Homo sapiens: one gene and its partners. The protein of the gene in region 1 interacts with the protein of each later gene in a biochemical or structural test. Each region holds a gene or a part of one and is shown on either strand. Other genes may lie near its edges.

Region 1 (5,326 bases):
TAACTCCCTTTATTTTTTTTTTTTCTGAGACAAGAGTTTCCGCTCTGTTGCTCAGGCTGGAGTACAGCAGTGTGATCTCAGCTTACTCTAACCTCTGCCTCCCAGATTCAAGCAATTCTCTTGCCTCAGCCTCTATAGTAGCTGAGATTACAAGCGCACAGCACCACGCCCAGCTAATTTCTCTATTTTTAGTAAAGATGGGGTTTTGCCATGCTGCCCAGGCTGGTCTTGAACCCCTGGGCTCAAGAGATCCCAAAGTGCTGGGATTACAGATGCGAGCCACAGTGCACAGCCAGTTTTTATATTTTTAAGGGGATTTTCTTCAGGCTAGATGCAGTGGTTCACACCTGTAATCCCAGCACTTTGGGAAGCTGAGGTGGGTGGATCACTTGAGCCCAGGAGTTCGAGACCAGCCTGGGCACCATGGCAAAACCCCGTCTCTACTAAAAATACAAAAATTAGCCGGGTGTGGTGGCATGCCTGTAGTCCCAGGTACTCAGGAGGCTGAGGTGGGAGGATTACCAGATTACCTGAGCCCGGGGAAGCAGAGGTTGCAGTGAGCTGAGATCATGCCACTCCACTCCAACATGGGCAACAGAACAAGACACTGTCTCAAAAAAAAAAAAAAAAAAGAAAGAAAGAAAAAGAAAAAGAGAAAAGAAAAGAAAACAAAACAGCTTGCAAGCTATTTAAGCTGGCTGTGGCTGGATGTGGTCCATAGGTTTTAGCTTGTAGCTTGCTGACCCTGACCTAGAACATCTGATACTTCTAGGGGTTGCCCCTCAGCTGCCTTAACACTACAGTGAGGACACTCGGGCCTGCAGCTCTCCACTACCTCGATGTCCCACAGAACTTTAATAGGAAAGCCATTCTGTAACATAGATCATCTGTTTGATGGTTTAAAAAAACAAAACAAAACAAAACATAAACATGCGACTTCTCCCCAAAGCAGATTCATAAACTGGGCCTGACAGAAGCTGAGTACTCCCCTACAGCTGCTAAAGGACTCTTAGACATTGTCAGGGGCCTCATTCTCTAGAGGGGTGACAGCAGTTTGACCGATATGTTACAAGTCAGCTTACATCACACAATGAAACACTTTCTCTTGCCTGTAATGCTGGCCCACATCCTTTGTGCACAGTAACAGCTCCTGGGCATTTGTGTTCTGAGTAAGCTACTGAATTTCTGTTGGCTTTTTTTTTTTTTTCTTTGAGATGGAGTCTCGCTCTGTCGCCCAGGCTGGAGTGCAGTGGTGCGATCTCGGTTCACTGCAAGCTCCGCTTCCCGGGTTCACGCCATTCTCCTGCCTCAGCCTCCTGAGTAGCTGGGACTACAGGCGCCCGCCACCACAGCCGGCTAATTTTTTTGTATTTTTAGTAGAGACGGGGTTTCACCGTGTTAGCCAGGATGGTCTCCATGTCCTGACCTCGTGATCCGCCCACCTCGGCCTCCCAAAGTGCTGGGATTACAGGCTTGAGCCACCGCGCCCAGCTGCTACTCAATTTCTGTACAGGAGGTGTTTATGTACAGAAATCCAGCTGGAAGGGGACTTGTGGAGATGCAACCAATTCTTGGTGCCACCACTGGTTTCAGTGAATAGCTTTAATAAATTTGGACCATTATTACAGTAAGTTATCGGAGAAGCAGACTGACCCATTCAGGCTCCAAAGTCAAGTCCCTTCCCAGTTCAGAAGGGGAAGGGATAGGAAATAAATGCTCAAATCTATCAAATTTCAAGAGTTGACTGCAGAAGTTTCACATCAGATAATCTACCACTTGAGTTTTCTGGACTGGTTGGAAGAAAATAAATCATTCCTTCTGGGTGCCTGATCTCGGCTCAGCATCTGCTTTCTTCTGGGCTGTTGATTTTCTGTTGTAAATGTAGCTGATAATGTGCAAACACTAAACCCTTTAAGTTGAAATGTTAGGAAGGCATTCTAAACTGAGCCAAGGCAAGGTGCTTTACTCCCTAATTTGGAAGAATATGTAAGTGATAACATAAAGAACATAGAACTCAGTATTTTCCAAGTAACTAATAAAGTAATTGTTCTGAGTAAAAGATCTGGGCAACTTACCTTCAGGGGGCTCAGACATGGACGGGGTGAGACAGTACATGTGGTAGCCACGATCGCAGTCATCACAGAAGAGCAACTGGTCCTGAAGTAGGCAAGAGGGAAGAGGATGGGGACTGAATAACTGATGTGCCTCAGGCCACTACAGGACACTGCTATTTCCAAGAGGGGTAGGTAGCAGGTAAGAACAGATGTGAGAATCTTATGTGGGAAACCATGCTGCCCCTCTCCACCGCAGATCCAGTCACTGTCATTTCTCACTTGGGTCCTTTCAGAGCTCCTAATTGATCAAATCACCTCCACTTTTTTTTTTTTTTTTTTTTCCCTAAAGCCCAAGCTCTATGGTATATTTTTTTGAGACAGGGTATTGCTGTCACTCAGGCTGGAGTGCAGTGGTGCAATCACGGCTCACTGCAGCCTTGACCTCCTGGGCCCAAGTGATCCTCCTACCTCAGCCTCTCAAGTAGCTGGGACTATAGGCACACACCACCACACCTAGCTAATTTTTCAATGTTTTTGGAGAGACAAGATCTCCTTACGTTGCCCAGGCTGGTCCTGAAATCCCAGGCTCAAGCAATCCTCCCACCTCAGCCTCCCAAAGTGCTTGGATTACAGGTGTGAGACGCCGTGCCCAGTGACTATTTCTTTTTGAGACAAGGTCTTGCTTTGTTGCCCAGGCTAGAGTGCGGTGGTGTGATCATGGCTCACTGCAGCCTCAAACTCCTGGGTTCAAGCAATCCTCCCACCTCAGCCTGCCAAGTAGCTGGGACTAACGTGTGTGCCACCACACCTGGCTAAGTGTTTATTTTTTTTGTGGAGACAGGATCTCCCTATGTTGCTCAGGCTGGTCTTGAATTCCTGGGCTCAAGTGATCCTCCCGCCTCAGCCTCTCAAGTGTTAGGATTACAGGCATGAGCCTCCATCCTTGTCCCTACAGTCTACCCTCCACACGGCACCCAAAGTCATCTTTTTAAAATATAAGACAAGGGCCAAGCACGGTGGCTCACACCTGTAATACCAGCATTTTGGGAGGCTGAGGCAGGTGGATCACCTGAGGTCAGGAGTTGAAAACTAGCTTGGCCAACATGGTGAAACCCCGTCTCTACTAAAAATTAGCCAGGCGTGGTGGCGGGCGCCTGTAATCCCAGCTACCTGGGAGGCTGAGACAGGAGAATTGCTTGAACCTGGGAGGCAGAGGTTGCAGTGAGCCGAGATTGCGCCATTGTACTCCAGCCTGGATGACAAGAGTAAAACTCCATCTTGAAATAAATAAATAAATATAAAATAAAATATAAGACAAGGCCAGACATGGTGGGTTCATGCCTGTAATCCCAGCACTTTGAGAGGCCAAGGTGGGAGGACTGCTTGAGCTCAGGAGTTTGAGACCAGCTCAGCAATATGGCAAGACCCTGTCTCTACCAAAAATATAAAAAAGTAGCCAGACATGGTGGTGTGCATCTGTGGTCCCAGCTACCCGGGAGGCTGAGGTGGGAGGATTGTACTGCTTGAGCCTGAAGGGAAAGGTTTTAGTGAGCTAAGATCGCGTCACTGCACTCCAGCCTGGATGACAGAGAGACTCTGTCTCAAAATAAATAAATAAATACATAAAGAATAAATAAATAGCTGGGTGCAGTGGCTCACGCCTATAATCCCAGCACTTTGGGAGGCTGAGGCAGGCGGATCACCGGAGGTCAGGAGTTCGATACCAGCCTGGCAAACATGGAGAAACCCCATCTCTACTAAAAATACAAAATTAGCCGGGTGTGGTGGCACGTGTCTGTAATCCCAGCTACTTGGGAGGCTGAGGCAGGAGAATCACTTGAACCCAGGAGGCAGAGGTTGCAGTGAGCTGAGATTGTGCCACTGTACTCCAGCCTGGGCGACAGAGCAAGACTCCATCTCAAAAAAAAAAAGTAAATAAATAAATACATAAATAACCATGTCACTTCCCGAGTAAAACCCTTCAACAGTGTCCTGTTGTACCTAGAATAAAACCCGAGGCCCCAGAGATCTGGCAGTGCTTGCCTCTCTCATCTCATTGCCCACCATACTCTCCCATGCCCTGTCATCTGGCTTGTCCAACATAAGGCCTTGGCGCTGGCTGCTCCTTTCCTGGGATTCCTCTACCTCCAAATCTTGACTGGCTCCTTGGTATCACCAAAATTTCAACACCAGCATCACCCTCCCAGAAGAGCCATACCTGACCATCAAAATAAATCACTTATGCAATTATTCTCTGCCACAGTACTGATTTCGTTTTTTTCATGGCACATTATACAAATCTCATTTACATCCTTGCTTATTGTTGTTCCTGTAAGAATGTAAATCTCATGAGGCAGGGACCTTGTTTGTCTTTAGCATCTTTAGTGACTAGAACAGTGTCTGACATAAAATCAGCACTCAATATATATCTGGCAACAAATCAGAGTTCTGACTGAGATGCTAGGGAGGGGCGTGTGGCATGTGGGAGGGATCCTGCTCCCTTTTTAAAAGAAAGCTCACTTTAGAGGGAACTGTGCAAACAGCAGTAAAAGCCCAGAAGGAGCCATGCTGAGGAGGGGGCGGGGATACACACGTCATTCTCGGAGGTGCCGCAGATATTGCAACATTTGCACTCGATGCACTGCCAGCGGTATGTCTTCACTGCCGCCATCATCACGGGGGTAAATTGGAGGCAAGATGGATGCCCTGTAGTGGGGGAAGTGAGTGAGACAGACAGTCGGAAATGCGGGGGGAAGAGAGGAGCTCCTGCCTGTGGCTACATCTTCTCTTGGTTAGGAAAAGCGAGGTGGGCTGGTTATGACAGCCCTAGAGGCCAGCAAGCCAAGAGCCCCTTGGGGACTGGGCAAAGCAGCAGCCTTCACGGGAAGCAGTACCTGAGCGGCCACAGTCAGAACAGGACACCAGCTCCTCGGGTTGTCCCGTCTTCTTGTTAATCTTTGAGTCCCCCAGGCAGAAGTCACAGTAGTTGTTGGGCAAGGCCAATCCATCAGGACCCTTTTTGGCTACAGAGAGAAAGAGTTTTGATGACACCCATGGGGGTCCCTGAGCCACTCAACACCCATGCAAGGAGTGGTTTTCATAACCAGGCCAACTTCTGCTTGCCCACCACTTCTGACACCTCAGCTTACATTTCTGCTCCTCAGACCTCTGGGAAACAGGAGTGGGTGGTTGAGAGTCTTCCTTGTCCTCGCCCTCCTCCTCAGCCAAGTGGGAGTGGGCATAGTGGTAACTGAGGCCTGGTCGGTTCTTGT
Region 2 (4,412 bases), on another chromosome or scaffold:
TTCTTAGACCCTGGGCTTTGCTCACCCTCACTTTGGCAGAGCTGTCCAATGAATTCATCAAATGGGGTCAGAATGACTGAAAAATGGACCCTTGTGGGTGGTGGGGACATCACAGAACAGAACGGTTCCTTGACATGTACATAATCCAACCACATCATTTTATAGACAAAGACGCTTAAGCCAGGACGTATAAATGACTGCCCAAGGTCATACAATTGCTTAGCAGCACAATGAGGTTTAGTATTGTCTTAGTTTGTCTGGGCTGCTATAAAAAAATAGCACAAACTGGGTGGTTGATGAGCAACAGAAGTTTATTTTTCACCGTTCTGGAGGCTGGAAGCCTGAGATCAGGGTACTAGCATGGCTGGGCTCTGGTGAGGGTCTTCTTCTGGGTTGCAAACTGTTAACTTCTCCTTGTTTTCTTACGTGGTGGAAGCAGGCCAAGAAAGCTCTCCGGGCTTCCTTTATAAGGGCACTAATCCCATTCGTAAGGGCTCTACCCTCATGACCTTATCACCTCCCGAAGACCCCACCTCCTAATACCATTACATTGGGAGTTAGCATTTCAATATATAAATTTTGGGAGGACACAAACATTCAGTCCATAACAGGTGTCATGTTCATAATCCCATGGGAAGTTTTTGAATGGGTGGGCATAGGTGGATTTCCTAGAGCAAAATTCTGGGAGCAGGAACTTGGAAAAGGAAAGTAGAAAGCAAAAAGTTATTTTCATAACAAATATAATAGTGTCCTGGCTTCTCTGAAGGGCCTAGTTGAATGTTTCACAGAGGCAAATATTAAAAACATTCCTTTCTGGGGGTTTGGAAATATTTTGATGTAGGATTTGATTTCCTGTCATAGTCCTGTAAATTGTATTTGTTTTCCTGTGCTTAATTTAGTGCTTAGCTTAGTTTCCTTTTGAAAAAATGTTGGATTTTAGTGTAAATAGAGTATATATTTAAAAAGTGGATACAAATTCTGCATGGCAATTTTAACTTTGTATAAACTTATTTTGTGTCATACTCTAGGGTAGTTAGAGCAGAAAAACATTACTTTTGTGACATACTTTTTGCTGGAAATACTCATGTTCCTCAGGTTTATTTTGGAGTGAATGAGTGGTTTGCTTTACATTTTATCATTGCCATTTTGTAGGTCTCTTTCAGTCTTCGATCTTTCCATTCTCATGTGGCCACACCCTCAAGGCTAAGGAGGCTTCTCTTGCTAAAGCTTACAACAAAAGGAACCCGAAGAGGCTATCTTTCCCACCAGCCCCATGGCCCACACCTTAACTGCAGAGACACCAGGGCACCTATCCCCAAACAGATTCTAGTCTTCCTATGCTGTTAAACACACACTGAGAGTTTTCTTGGACAACACTGATAGCTCAGAGGACACTGGTCATTGGATTTTAAGTATCCTTTTCTTCCCTTTTTGGATCTTCTAGGAATACCTGAACAGTATTTTGCAACATGCAAAAGATTTTAAGGAATATCATCGGTCTGTGGCCGGAAAGATCCAGAAGCTCTCCAAAGCAGTGGCAACTTGGCATGCCAACACTGAAAGAGAGCAGAAGAAGGAGACAGAGCGGATTGAAAAGGAGAGAATGCGGCGACTGATGGTAAGGAACTCCCTGCAGGAGCCCAGGAAACTACTCAACCCACGTCCGTCTGCAATGAGACCATTAAATATGGTGGTAGTAGAAGGAAAAAATGAAAACTGCTTATCAAAAATTTTAGTAAATTTCTTTGAACCTTAGGGAGATGAAGTAAAAACTTTTTCTCTTTCCTGGAGAATGCATGCCAAAAATCTAGGGGGATGACTGATGCGTATAGTATTTCTGTGTCCTGGGGTGGCATTGCGCGGTACACATTACAGCTTCTCTCATAAAAGCAGGTACTGTATTTTGCATGAGTTTGATAACCAGATCTGGAAGGATGGCAAATGCAGTTCTTTTAAAAATATGGCCTCTTTGAGATGAATGACCACGTTTTTTGGAATGAATAACACATTAAGTCGTGTCTTCAAATCTAAGAAGGTCTGTGTTTTGAAGCCTCTGGTGCTTATCTTTCTTTTTTAATGGCAGAAATTATTCTCTAACAGTGTAATAAGTGATTTTTAAGTTGATTTTGAAATGTTGCCTTTTTTGTGATAGCCTTGTTATGGTCAAAGGCTATTCATGGATTATTACATTTGCACTGTTATTTTTTAATGGGCATATAAGCACAGAAGAGATAGGTTTATATCATTGGCCTGAGTATTTGTTTTTATTGACCATTTATTTTTGGAATTGGACCTCAGAGCACACTGTGGATTTTAGAAAAGCGTGTGTGTGTGTGATGTTATAATTATAGGAGACCTGCAGATTCTATCTAGGACGTAATGCCTGCATAGATGAAGATAAGGTCATTAGTCTCAGACCATAATTATGTTCCTGGAAAATTCTAAGTGACACTGTCTTCCTGGCTGGTATTACAGTTTGCATTTTTTTCATTTTTTGGATTCCAGAGAGTAAACACCATGTTTTAAAAGCCTCTGTGTGCAGGTACTACTACATCTTACTACCCTATCCTGCCTCCCTCTCCATACCAGGGAGAGAGGACTGTCCGAGAGGTTTCTGACTAGACCGTTTTTGTAGTAATTTGATCACTAAGCAGTCAAATTTGTCTGACTCAACTGAAGTGAAACTATATTAGAACTTCAGTAACAGATTGGTTTGACACTAATGATTAGGCATTTGCAAATCATTAATTTTTGCAATTAAGTGATGGAATATACAGATAATAGAGAAACTGAAGTTTTTTATCACTCTTTCTTCAAGTGAGTTCAACCATAACCGAAAGCAATTAGAGTTATAATAGCATTTGAGGCTCTTGCTCATCCACAGGGCAGACGGCAGCTAGACTGAGTGATGAAGCTGCTGTCACTCAGGCAGATGCTAGAGTGACACCCCTGGACAAAAGATCCCAAGTTTTTGTTTTTGTTTTTGCAATGGAGTTGCCTCTTAAAGATTTTGCAGCTTGCTCCTTTTATCGTGGCATTACATGATAAAAATAATTTGGAGTGTCCTTTTATTGGGATACACAAAGAGATTTCTCTCAAAATGGCTTAGAGTACATCAGAGTTTTATTCTGTTTAACCTCATCATGTTGCTTAATGGGAGGTGGAGGTGGGAATTACTGTATCTATTTTATTGCTCAGCAGTACCAGACTTCAGGTGCTAAGTGACTTGTCTCCAGTCACCTGGGCCCATTACTCAGTGCAGATCTGTGGCCAAAAAAAAAAAAAAAAAAAAAAAAAAAAAAAATCCCCCAAATTTGATCTTTCCTGTTAACCACAAAGTTTGTAATGCCAAAAAGAAAGACTTTTTAAAATATAAGACATTATTTGTTAAAAGCCCATTTGATTCCTTGCCTTTAGTAGTACTTTTTGAAATATTTATGAATGAAAGGATATTATGTCTGGAATTTGCTTCAAGACAATTCAGTTTGGGTTTAGAAGAAGAGTAGCAATGAAACAGGAGTCATCACAAGTGAATTTTTGTTGTTTGGGGTTGGTTATAGGAGAAATTAAACTATTCTCTCTGCTTTTGATTATATTTGAAAATGTCTAAAATATAGAGTTAAAGATAAAGTTTAGATCATGAATTGTCAAATTCTAAAATCTTTTTGTACAGTTAAAGCAACACAGAAAACAAAGAGCTTGGCTCAGAGTGCTTAATCACACCACACGTACAGTGTGGCTTTGTGCCCGGACTTTGCTGTAAACTCCAGTGTCCTGGGATGTAGGCGTCACACTTCTGTGTGTTTGTCCCACTTCAGACTCTGTGCAATGGCTTGAACAGCCCAACTCATCCAGTTTGCTACACTCCTACCAGTCAAAATGCAGACTGTCAAGGGGAGGACAGAGTGGAGAGTGGAGTTGTCTGCACGCTTATATTATGCTCTCATCCTGCTCTTCTTTCCTTAATAGGCTGAAGATGAGGAGGGTTATAGAAAACTGATTGATCAAAAGAAAGACAGGCGTTTAGCTTACCTTTTGCAGCAGACCGATGAGTATGTAGCCAATCTGACCAATCTGGTTTGGGAGCACAAGCAAGCCCAGGCAGCCAAAGAGAAGAAGAAGAGGAGGAGGAGGAAGAAGGTGCGTATCCTAGTGGTGGTGGCTGAGTCCAGGGTGTATGGGCAGGGATAAGTTTTTAAGGCGAGTATTGCTCTTTAAGTACTACTTCTTACACTGGTGGAAGGTTTAGATGATTGAATTGTGAAAATTGCATAAATGGGTATGGCATGGAAGTGTTGATTAGGTACACTAGACAACTATTGGAGGTAAGGGCATAATAATGGGATATACTAAACTAAAACAATGTTGTTCATAAATCATTGTTTAATAGAAGATTTTAAATTAAGTACATA
Region 3 (4,412 bases), on another chromosome or scaffold:
CCTATGAGTTAGGTAATATTATCTTCACTTTTCAGCTAATGAAACTGAGACTTGCAGGCGTCATATAACTCAGTCAAGGCCAATACGTGGTGAAGCTGGGATTCAAGCCCAGGCCTGTCTTACTCCAAAGCCATCTCTTAATCCCTTAAGCAATCCTGCATAGGGGATACATGTGCACTGTTCTAAAGACATTCAGATGAATGTCTAAGAAGATGACCACTCCAGAGCATGGACAGATTGAGGTGCAGAGCACACTAAAGCATCTCGCAGCAGCACTACATCTGGGACACGAGGTACAGGCTGGATCTTCTCTAAAATAAGCTATCAGGTGCCACTTTACTCAAGCCTCTTCCTTAGCAATAGCAAGTATATCGTACTTGGGATTAACTCCGGCACAGAAGAGCCTAAAAAACTAAATTGTGATTTTGCTACTTGAGAAATATTTTAAAACGGATGATCTCAGGGTTTCACTATTGCTTCTTGAAATGTGATACTGGAAGAAGACTTCTGAAAAGGGCCTAAACTCTGACATAGACATGATGCACATACACCAAGAAAAAGGTCATACTTCTAAAACTGCTCGAAAATTTCCATGTGCCGCTCAGCATTTCATAGCAGAAGTACATTCCCCCTCCCCCTCAAATCCTCACACCCTTATGGGAATTTCCCCAATAGCAGAAGTTTTATATATTTTTCTTTATTATATTTTCTATGATGACTAATGGCCACAGGATTTAAACTATTAGCCAAATATGACGAGCTGAATTAAAACAAGAGACTTGGGCTGTGATGGCCAAAAGCTGCCCTATACCTATGCTCTTATGAGGATCCTCTGGTCTCTCCAAGTCCCAAATCTGTGGCCTCTCTGAGAGCCGGCTTGTGTGAGTGTGCTTGGGTCTTAGGAGGGAACTTGCATGTGCCTCGCCTTGTATCCCTTCCAACAATCCTCCCTTCAGATATCAGCACTTCCTTTCTAACCTGTATGTGCTCATCTTCTTAGACTTATCAATTTAACAGGTCCCTGGAAATGCCACTTGAAACACTGCTGTACTGTCTTGGTTAACTGCTTTTTCTTGTGGTTGTATGCTACTGAATGCTAACTGGATTATTTAACCCTGAAAAAGAATTCTGCTGTTCATGGCTTTATACCAAGAAGGTTGTACTGGTTCCTCTCATACTGTATAACAAGGCCAGTGGTTATACCACATCCTTGGTTACGTTGCAAGGAATGAGAACAAAGGTGTCTCTGCTTGAAACCCTGAGGTTGTTACTTTCCTAAAGTGCTTGGTTTAATTTTTAAACTGAAGTCTAAAACACAGCACTCAAGAGCTCTTCCACAGAAAAGGATTTCTCTATGTTGATGCTATTTTAGGAAGGTTTTAGATAAGGCACTTGACTTGAATGTGAAGGCTGCTGTCTCTTGTTATTTTTATAGGCTTTTGAGATCATTTTAGAAGTCTCAATGAAAGGACTAAGAGAACTGTTTTAGAAAGAAGCCAGGTGGCTTTGCAAATACAATCTCAGTAATAGCAAGAATGGAAGGCATGGTGTTTGGAATGTTCCACTCCCACATATGGGCTGGAGCAGTCACAAAAGTCTGAAACAGTCATAGACTGATGACCATCAGAAGAGGGAGCAGAGAAGAAACCAGTAACTGGGAAATAATGACCAGTCCCTCTTAATCTTTCTGTTGTTGTTGCTGCCTTTATTGGGCTTTTTCTTGAGTACACTGTCATAAATATGCAGCTGGGATAACAATGCTTCAGGGATTTGGTAGGACTCTTAACAATTCTCCAAATATTACTTCAATAAACAAAGCAAGGCTTTTCAAAAAGTACCATTACCTACACACATCTTAGTTTTCTTGCCCAGAGAGATTCACTCTTAGATGAGTCCTCCAGCTACTACAGATTCCAACAGATGACAGCAGCAGGATGGAGCAGCAAATTGTGCTACTTAACCTTATTCACACATTATTTTTCTTCATCATTCCAGTTAGAGGACTCAATATATTTGAACAATTATTTTTATCTCTAGTCAGTATGCATTATACGATGCTCTTCTTCTTCCCCACCCAGGACAACCTATCATGCAAAAGTTCTGACTTACCTGTCCCCATTCTCATCCTGCACAGCAGTGAGATGGCGCTGGACGGCCAGCAGCATCTTCACGTCTCCTGTCACCGCGTAGTCGAAAAGGGCATTGGCATGCCTCTTTGCAAGCTGCATAGCCTTCTCTAGAAAGAGGTTATCTGTAAGGCAATGACCACAATCATAGTTGAGTGTTCCTACTTTTGTTTTATGGGTATGGCATGCTTAAGGACAAACTGACCAGCATCAGTGTTCTGACACCTTGACATATCATTTTAGTTGAAAATGTTCTTTCAATGCTTTTGGATTGTGTGGACTAGAAAAAGCAGAATTGGACACTGGGTCACTGACAAATATAGTTAGAGATTGATCTTAAAGAATCTGTGTATGATTTGTTAGAGGAAAAAAGTTTAGAAATGTATTATTTTAAGGGAACGACCATTATCTGTTATTTTAAGGAAAACAATCTCCAAACAATGTTAGATTTTACCATGATTTTAAATCACCAATATCTTGGTGAAATAATCCTTCATTGGAATCTCTAACAATTAGCTTGTTAGGCAATGTGTGAAAAAACACACATCTCTGCCATAAACAGAGACGTTCAATGAGCCACTCACGTTTTTGTAAAGTTTGTTCCATTAAGGTCAGGGAATGGCATTTGTGACCTTTGGGCCAAAACCTGTTTATGGCCTGCTTTTCATATAGCTCCCTAGCTAATCATGGCTTATACATTTTTAAAGGGGTGTAAAAAAAAAGCATATGTGATAGACACCACATGTGGCCACCAACTCTAAATATTTACTACCTTTGCTTTTATAGACGTCTTCTTAGTACGATCTAGGATGACCTAGAATCATGACACATATGCTAATAAGTATTGGTTCACAGTAAACGCAAAAGTACATTTTCTCCTAATCCTACTTCTTCAAAGAGGGCACAAGATAAAAAGAAAAGTTCCTATTTTAAGGCAAAGTTCTATTTCAGTATGACGGTTAAGCCAGAATCTAGACAGGGTGACTATTAAGCTTGTGGAAATACTTCTCTATTTATCTGTGCCAGAAAAGAAGTTGATTATCTCTCACAATACCCTAAAACTGCATGATTATGACTGGAGAATGTACATATAAATTTCTGTCCTTTACATTCAAAGATAACAGAGCAAAAATGGAAATCCCAGTGTGAATAAAATGATCTGACATATGCTTTTCCAAAGGCATACAGAACTTTGAAGAGTACACTAAACTAGATATTGATATATCATCTTTAGATTAGCAGATATCTTTCTGCACCTAGGACTGACCCCTCCCCAGCCAACCAACAGAACGTAATTTGTGTGCTCACTTACCCTGAACTCCAGCACTCTCTTCTTTTGTTCCTGTTGCATACGTTAGAGTGACCTCACCATTCCCAACGGTGGCCTCGCTGGGCTCCTGATCTTGCTCTGTGGTTTCAATAACTTTCCCAAAGAGGTTTACAGTGTTTTTGTCATCACTTTTGTCACAACCTTCAGGGTCCTTTTTAGATTCAGTGTCCATGGTTCCTAAGATAAATGCAAAAACATCAGATTTTTCTCAGTAAAATGTATTTAGTGATAATTCGCTATTCCAATGTAGGTCAGATAAAGGTAAGAGACAAGTTTGCTGCAAAAGGAAAAGAAAAATAATAATTTAAAATTCTTTTAAAAATGGTCATATCATAAATACCATGTTTTGGAGATATTCTAAACTCATTTCTAAAAATCATTTTTAGTATACTTCTAAAATCTTAAATCTCATTTTGCTTATTTGTAAAGGAGAAAAATGAAATAAAGCTCTTCTATGAATTGCAGGAAAGCTGAATTTTTAAAGTTCTTGAAAACAGAGCAGTTTTTTCCTAATGCTAATGAACAAAGCAAATCATAAAGACGTGTTGTCGACTCACATTCTTTAGTGTGGGAGTTATCCAGTGTACCATTCCTGATCACCCTCTTTCAGGTTCAACTATGTTATCTGACAGATACTATGAGAGCATCTAGCTTTTCTGCAGGAGACCTGCTTCAAATTCTTGTTCTGCCACTAACTTCTGTGTGCCTTCAGTGAGTACGAACATTTCTGAACTTTGATGCCTTTTGTGTGCAAAATGGAGTTACTATTTTCCATATAGAGCAGTCATGAAGATAACAGTTAAAACATGTAAAAGCACTTGGCACAAAAATAGGTATTCAATAAATGGGAAGACTTCTTTATAGTATTATTTCTTCCATGGGTACACTAGAATGGACCTGTAATATAAACTATCAACATGTGGTTTAACTGCAGCTTCTCAGGGGATGACTTGATG
Region 4 (4,412 bases), on another chromosome or scaffold:
CTCAAGCACCTGCCTGTCCCTGGTCTCCTCTCGGTCCTTCCTGCTGCAGTCCCCCATCAGCACCTGCCCTGGCCATCCTCACCCCAGGTTCTATGCCCCCAACTGCCCTTCCTCATGCCCACAGCCTCCGGTGCTTTCTGTGGCCATGGCACACTGATAGTCATGCACATGAATCTGTTTCCTCTGCCAGACAGGGCACTGTCTCCTCCCGTCCCTGGCCAGGAACACAGGGCTGGCCCAGGGGAGGTGCCAGTAACTTTGCAGGATCAGCTCTCCTCAGAGGCTCTGCCTAGCCCAGCCTCCTTCCCCTTGAGCCCTGTCTCCCTCCTTTCGCTGGCCCTTCATCCCACTCCACTGGCTCTGGGACGCCTGTGTCACTCTGGTCCCAGTCTGTCCTCTAGGAGCCTAGGGCTTCTGACCAGTTTGTCACATGCCCCTGTTTCCCCTTCATGCTTGTCTCCTGTCTGTCCCACTGCCAAAGGGAACAGGCTGTTCTCTGCCCTGGTTCCCCTGAGGTGTGGGCATAGTGGCCTTGCACACACATGTCCTGTGGCCAGCAGCTTGCCCCACTGTACCATGGATCCAATCAATGTCCCCACTGCCGAGGAGGGTATGGAAGTCAGGCACTGAGCTCTGGCTGGGAGAGATGGAGGGACTGGCTCTTGGGGAATCAGCGAGTGCTTCCATTATGGAGTGACCTAGGTCCAGAGCTGAAAACCCTTTTTTTTGAGATGGAGTCTAGCTCTGTCGGGCTGGAGCACAATGGTGCAATCTCAGCTCACTGCAATCTCCGCCTCACGGGTTCAAGCAATTCTCCTGCCTCAGCCTCCCGAGTAGCTGGGATTACGGGTGCCCACCACCACACCTGGCTAATTTTTCTACTTCTAGTAGAGACGGGGTTTTGCCATGTTGGCCTGTCTCTAACTCCTGACCTCAGGTGATCCGCCCACCTCGGCCTCCCAAAGTGCTGGGATTACAGGCGTGAGCCACCATGCCTAGCCTGAAAACCCTTCTTAAGAAGTCATGTGGCCGAGCGCGGTGGCTCACGCCTGTAATCCCAGCACTTTGGGAGGCCGAGATGGGTGGATCACAAGGTCAGGAGATCCAGACCATCCTAGCTAATACGGTGAAACCCCGTCTCTACTAAAAACACAAAAATTAGCTGGGCGTGGTGGCGGGCACCTGTAGTCCCATCTACTCAGGAGCCTGAGGCAGGAGAATGGCGTGAACCCAGGAGGCAGAGCTTGCAGTGAGCCGAGATCACGCCACTGCACTCCAGCCTGGGCGACAGAGCGAGACCCCATCTCAAAACAAAACAAAAAGTCATGTGACACAGCAGTTGCCAAGCTTTCTGTGTGGCAGAGACCAGGCCAGGACTCCTGGTCTAGCTCTCTGTGGGCTGACTGGCCCCTGGACCTGGGGACTCAGTGGCCCAGCCTCCTTTCCCCAGGCAGGGCCAGGCAGGACTGACACTGGTCTCCCTGGGGACAGAGTTAAACGAAGTCCCTCCTAAGATCCCATGGGGTGGGGTGGTACAGTGGGGGGAACGCGAGTTGGAGTCAGGGATGACAGCCCAACCCTAAGGCCCTGTCCTATCCTTGCAGCTGTCTTCCAGTGTGGGGACTGGGAAGACACACGCAGCCCTCCTGATGCTAAAAGCCCACTCAGGACACTTCCCAGTTCCCCAGGCAGGCCGCCTCTCCATCTGGCTGCTGTGATAGGGACGTGTGCTCACCTTGGTCCCAGCGGGATGGCCTTTGCCTTTAACCCCAAAGATTTGAAACCTGCATTCTCAGCATAAGAGAGAGCAGGGGGCAGGGGGTCTGTGATGCCCCCAGGCCCTGCAACTGGAATGCACTAAGTGGTCGATGAGATAAAGAAGGGGCCCGCCTCTGCCTCTAAATCCTGACCTGCCACCACCAGGGACTCCCCAGGGGGTCTGCTCTGGAGCCACTCTGCAAACTGCAGAGGGCCCGGAACTTGGAAAGGAATTTAGGCTCAGGTCACCTTCGGGTCAGAGCAGGAGGGATGGTGCCATGGTGGCTGAAAGAAGGGATGTTGCAAGGACCTGTCAAGAGGCCCCGGGGACTTCAGTTCCTGACCCTGGACTGTGGGCACTGGCAGCGGCTGCAGGACTAGGTGAAGGTCAACACCGTAGGGGCTGGATGCTGGGGGCAGCCAGCCTACCACCTGCACCTGTGAGCCCAAGACGAGGGTTCTGACTGGATCAGCCTCTGCGGGAGGAGGTGCTCAGTGTTGATGCGCGCAACATGACTGCCTCCCGGGGCCTCAGAGTCAACTCTGGTGGAGGGAGGCCACCCTTGACTGGCTCTCCGGCCATAGGGCTTGGCTCTGTGCAGGGTGAATGCACGCTACAGCTGCACTCCCAGGCAACACCCCGAGGGAACAGGGAGGCATCAGACACCAGCCCCCCAGCCTCCTCTCTGGGCTGCCCTGTCTGTGAAGCAGAACCATGTGACTGGCAGGGCTGCTGGGGGGCAGGTCACAGGATCTCAGCACCATGGCGCTCAGGCAGGGACTCAGCTGTTTCCCAGGCCCGGGCCCTTGAGCCCCGTGGGTGGCTCTCATTCCTTCTTCCTTGCTCAGATTTATGGGAAGTCATAGAAAGCTGTCTCTTGGGATGTCTGGGAAAACAAGTTAGACACAAACCTAACGAGCTCCATTAATTGTCATGGCTTTGCAAAACAGACCTTCCTATTTGCTCCTCATGTAGCATTTTAAGCTGTCATCCCTGAGTGATGACTGCAGATGTGGATGATGATAGTCTGATGAGCAGACTAAATCTGAACATCCTGTTTTGATGTAGGGATGCTTGCTGCACCCCCACCCCATCCCAACACAGAGGACAGGGTGAGGAACCACGGGGCTTCCCAGTCCTAGAGTCCTGCTGAGCCGGGAGAGTTCAACCTCGCTATTTTTTTTTTTTTTTTTGGAGACAGGGTCTCGCTCTGTCACCCAGGCTGGAGTGCAGTGGTGTGATCTTGGCTCACTGCAGCCTCCACCTCTTGAGCTCAGGCGATCCTCCCACCTCAGCTTCCTGAGTAGCTGAAACTACAGGCATGTACCAACATGCCCGGCTCATTTTTTCTATTTTTTTTTTTTTGTAGAGGTGGGGTCTCACCATGTTTTTCCCAGGCTGGTCTTGAACTACTGGGTTCTGGTGATCCACCTCAGCTCCGCGAAGTGCTAGGACTGCAGGTGTGAGCCATCGCACTGGGCCTTGACCTCACTTTTAACTCTGAGTCCCACCTCCTGCCAGGAACAGGAGGGCCTCTCCCGGGTCCATCCCCATCCCTACCACAGAGGACACTGGACTGGAATATTCTGTTCACACTTCCACCATCTCAGCCAGCCCAAATGCTACAGGCAGGGATCAAGGTGACCTGTCTCTATCTTCCAGGGCAGCCAGGATGGGGTCCAGCCCAGCATGGTACTCATCAAATGCTCTCTGACTGACCAAAGGCAGAGATACTAGAGTAAGAAGGAGCTGCTAGGGACCCCTGACTCTCAAAAGCTGGGCGGGCCTTTGTGTTTAAGACATAATTCAAGTTCAACAGATGAAGAACCCTGGGCAGGGGTCACCCTGACCAAAATAACAGTCTGGGCAAGAGCAGAGAGAGAGGGTGTGGGGCAGGACAACTGAATGGTGGATGGTGGGGGCAGGCCAGGGCTCCGTGGAGGCAAGGACTTGAGGTTCACCCTGACAGAACTCCAAGTCTTTGCCAGCTATTGTGTTAGGTGCTTCTAACCCTACCTGGCACAGCGGAGCCCTGGAGAGATACATAGGGCAGGAGGAGGACGGAGCAAACACACAGACCCCAGCCAGATTGTGCTGCGAAGCGTGAGAAAGCCTCAAAGGTATCACCGCTCACACAGAGAAGTCTTTCTCAAAACAGTTTTGCAGGGAGATGAGGGAGGGAGAGACTCATGCATGATCCTACCTGAAGGCGTAGGTCTTCTGATGCCAGCTCAGCTGTCCCCGGATGCTGTATGCGATGGTGGTGACAAACTCCCCGCCCAACCCCAGCTCCGAGCACAGCTTCAGGGCAAACTTCTCTGGTGAGTTCTCCTTCTCTGACATGTCCCACTCAAACTGGTCCACCAGGGAAATGTTTCCCACATGGATGTTCAGCTGAGGCAACAACCAAAGGACACAAGTTAGAGCTTTTGCAGCCCAGGGAGGCCGCGAGGAGCGGGGCCCTGCCAGGCCTGGGGTGGGCCCTGCCCACCAGGGTCCACCAGCTGAGAACTGCAGGTGGTCCTTGTCCTTCCAGTTCCCCATCCCCAAAACAAGGCTGACCCCACAACCCTGTCTGCCATGAGGGGCTCTGGCTCAGGGCCCAGCACAGTCACCCTCGGGAGGCCCTGAAGTGACCCCGGGGGCACCTGAG

The links. Proteins that work in one complex are often made in the same cells at the same time.
Region 2: the proteins of DPF2 (region 1) and SMARCA2 form a complex in vitro, tested with the Homo sapiens proteins (one study listed by BioGRID).
Region 3: the proteins of DPF2 (region 1) and NFKB1 form a complex in vitro, tested with the Homo sapiens proteins (2 studies listed by BioGRID).
Region 4: the proteins of DPF2 (region 1) and SMARCB1 form a complex in vitro, tested with the Homo sapiens proteins (one study listed by BioGRID).

Annotation. Positions count from the first base shown.
Region 1 is NC_000011.10:65,345,681-65,351,006, reverse strand, and holds part of DPF2 (zinc finger protein ubi-d4), read right to left. Parts: coding exon 5,204-5,326; intron 5,078-5,203; coding exon 4,949-5,077; intron 4,761-4,948; coding exon 4,648-4,760; intron 2,158-4,647; coding exon 2,076-2,157; intron 1-2,075. UniProt on the Homo sapiens protein: Plays an active role in transcriptional regulation by binding modified histones H3 and H4. Is a negative regulator of myeloid differentiation of hematopoietic progenitor cells. Might also have a role in the development and maturation of lymphoid cells.
Region 2 is NC_000009.12:2,056,847-2,061,258, forward strand, and holds part of SMARCA2 (SWI/SNF-related matrix-associated actin-dependent regulator of chromatin subfamily A member 2), read left to right. Parts: intron 1-1,444; coding exon 1,445-1,618; intron 1,619-3,969; coding exon 3,970-4,140; intron 4,141-4,412. UniProt on the Homo sapiens protein: ATPase involved in transcriptional activation and repression of select genes by chromatin remodeling (alteration of DNA-nucleosome topology).
Region 3 is NC_000004.12:102,595,359-102,599,770, reverse strand, and holds part of NFKB1 (nuclear factor NF-kappa-B p105 subunit), read right to left. Parts: intron 3,634-4,412; coding exon 3,439-3,633; intron 2,252-3,438; coding exon 2,110-2,251; exon of another isoform or gene 36-2,109; intron 1-35.
Region 4 is NC_000022.11:23,824,966-23,829,377, reverse strand, and holds part of SMARCB1 (SWI/SNF-related matrix-associated actin-dependent regulator of chromatin subfamily B member 1), read right to left. Parts: intron 4,154-4,412; coding exon 3,963-4,153; intron 1-3,962.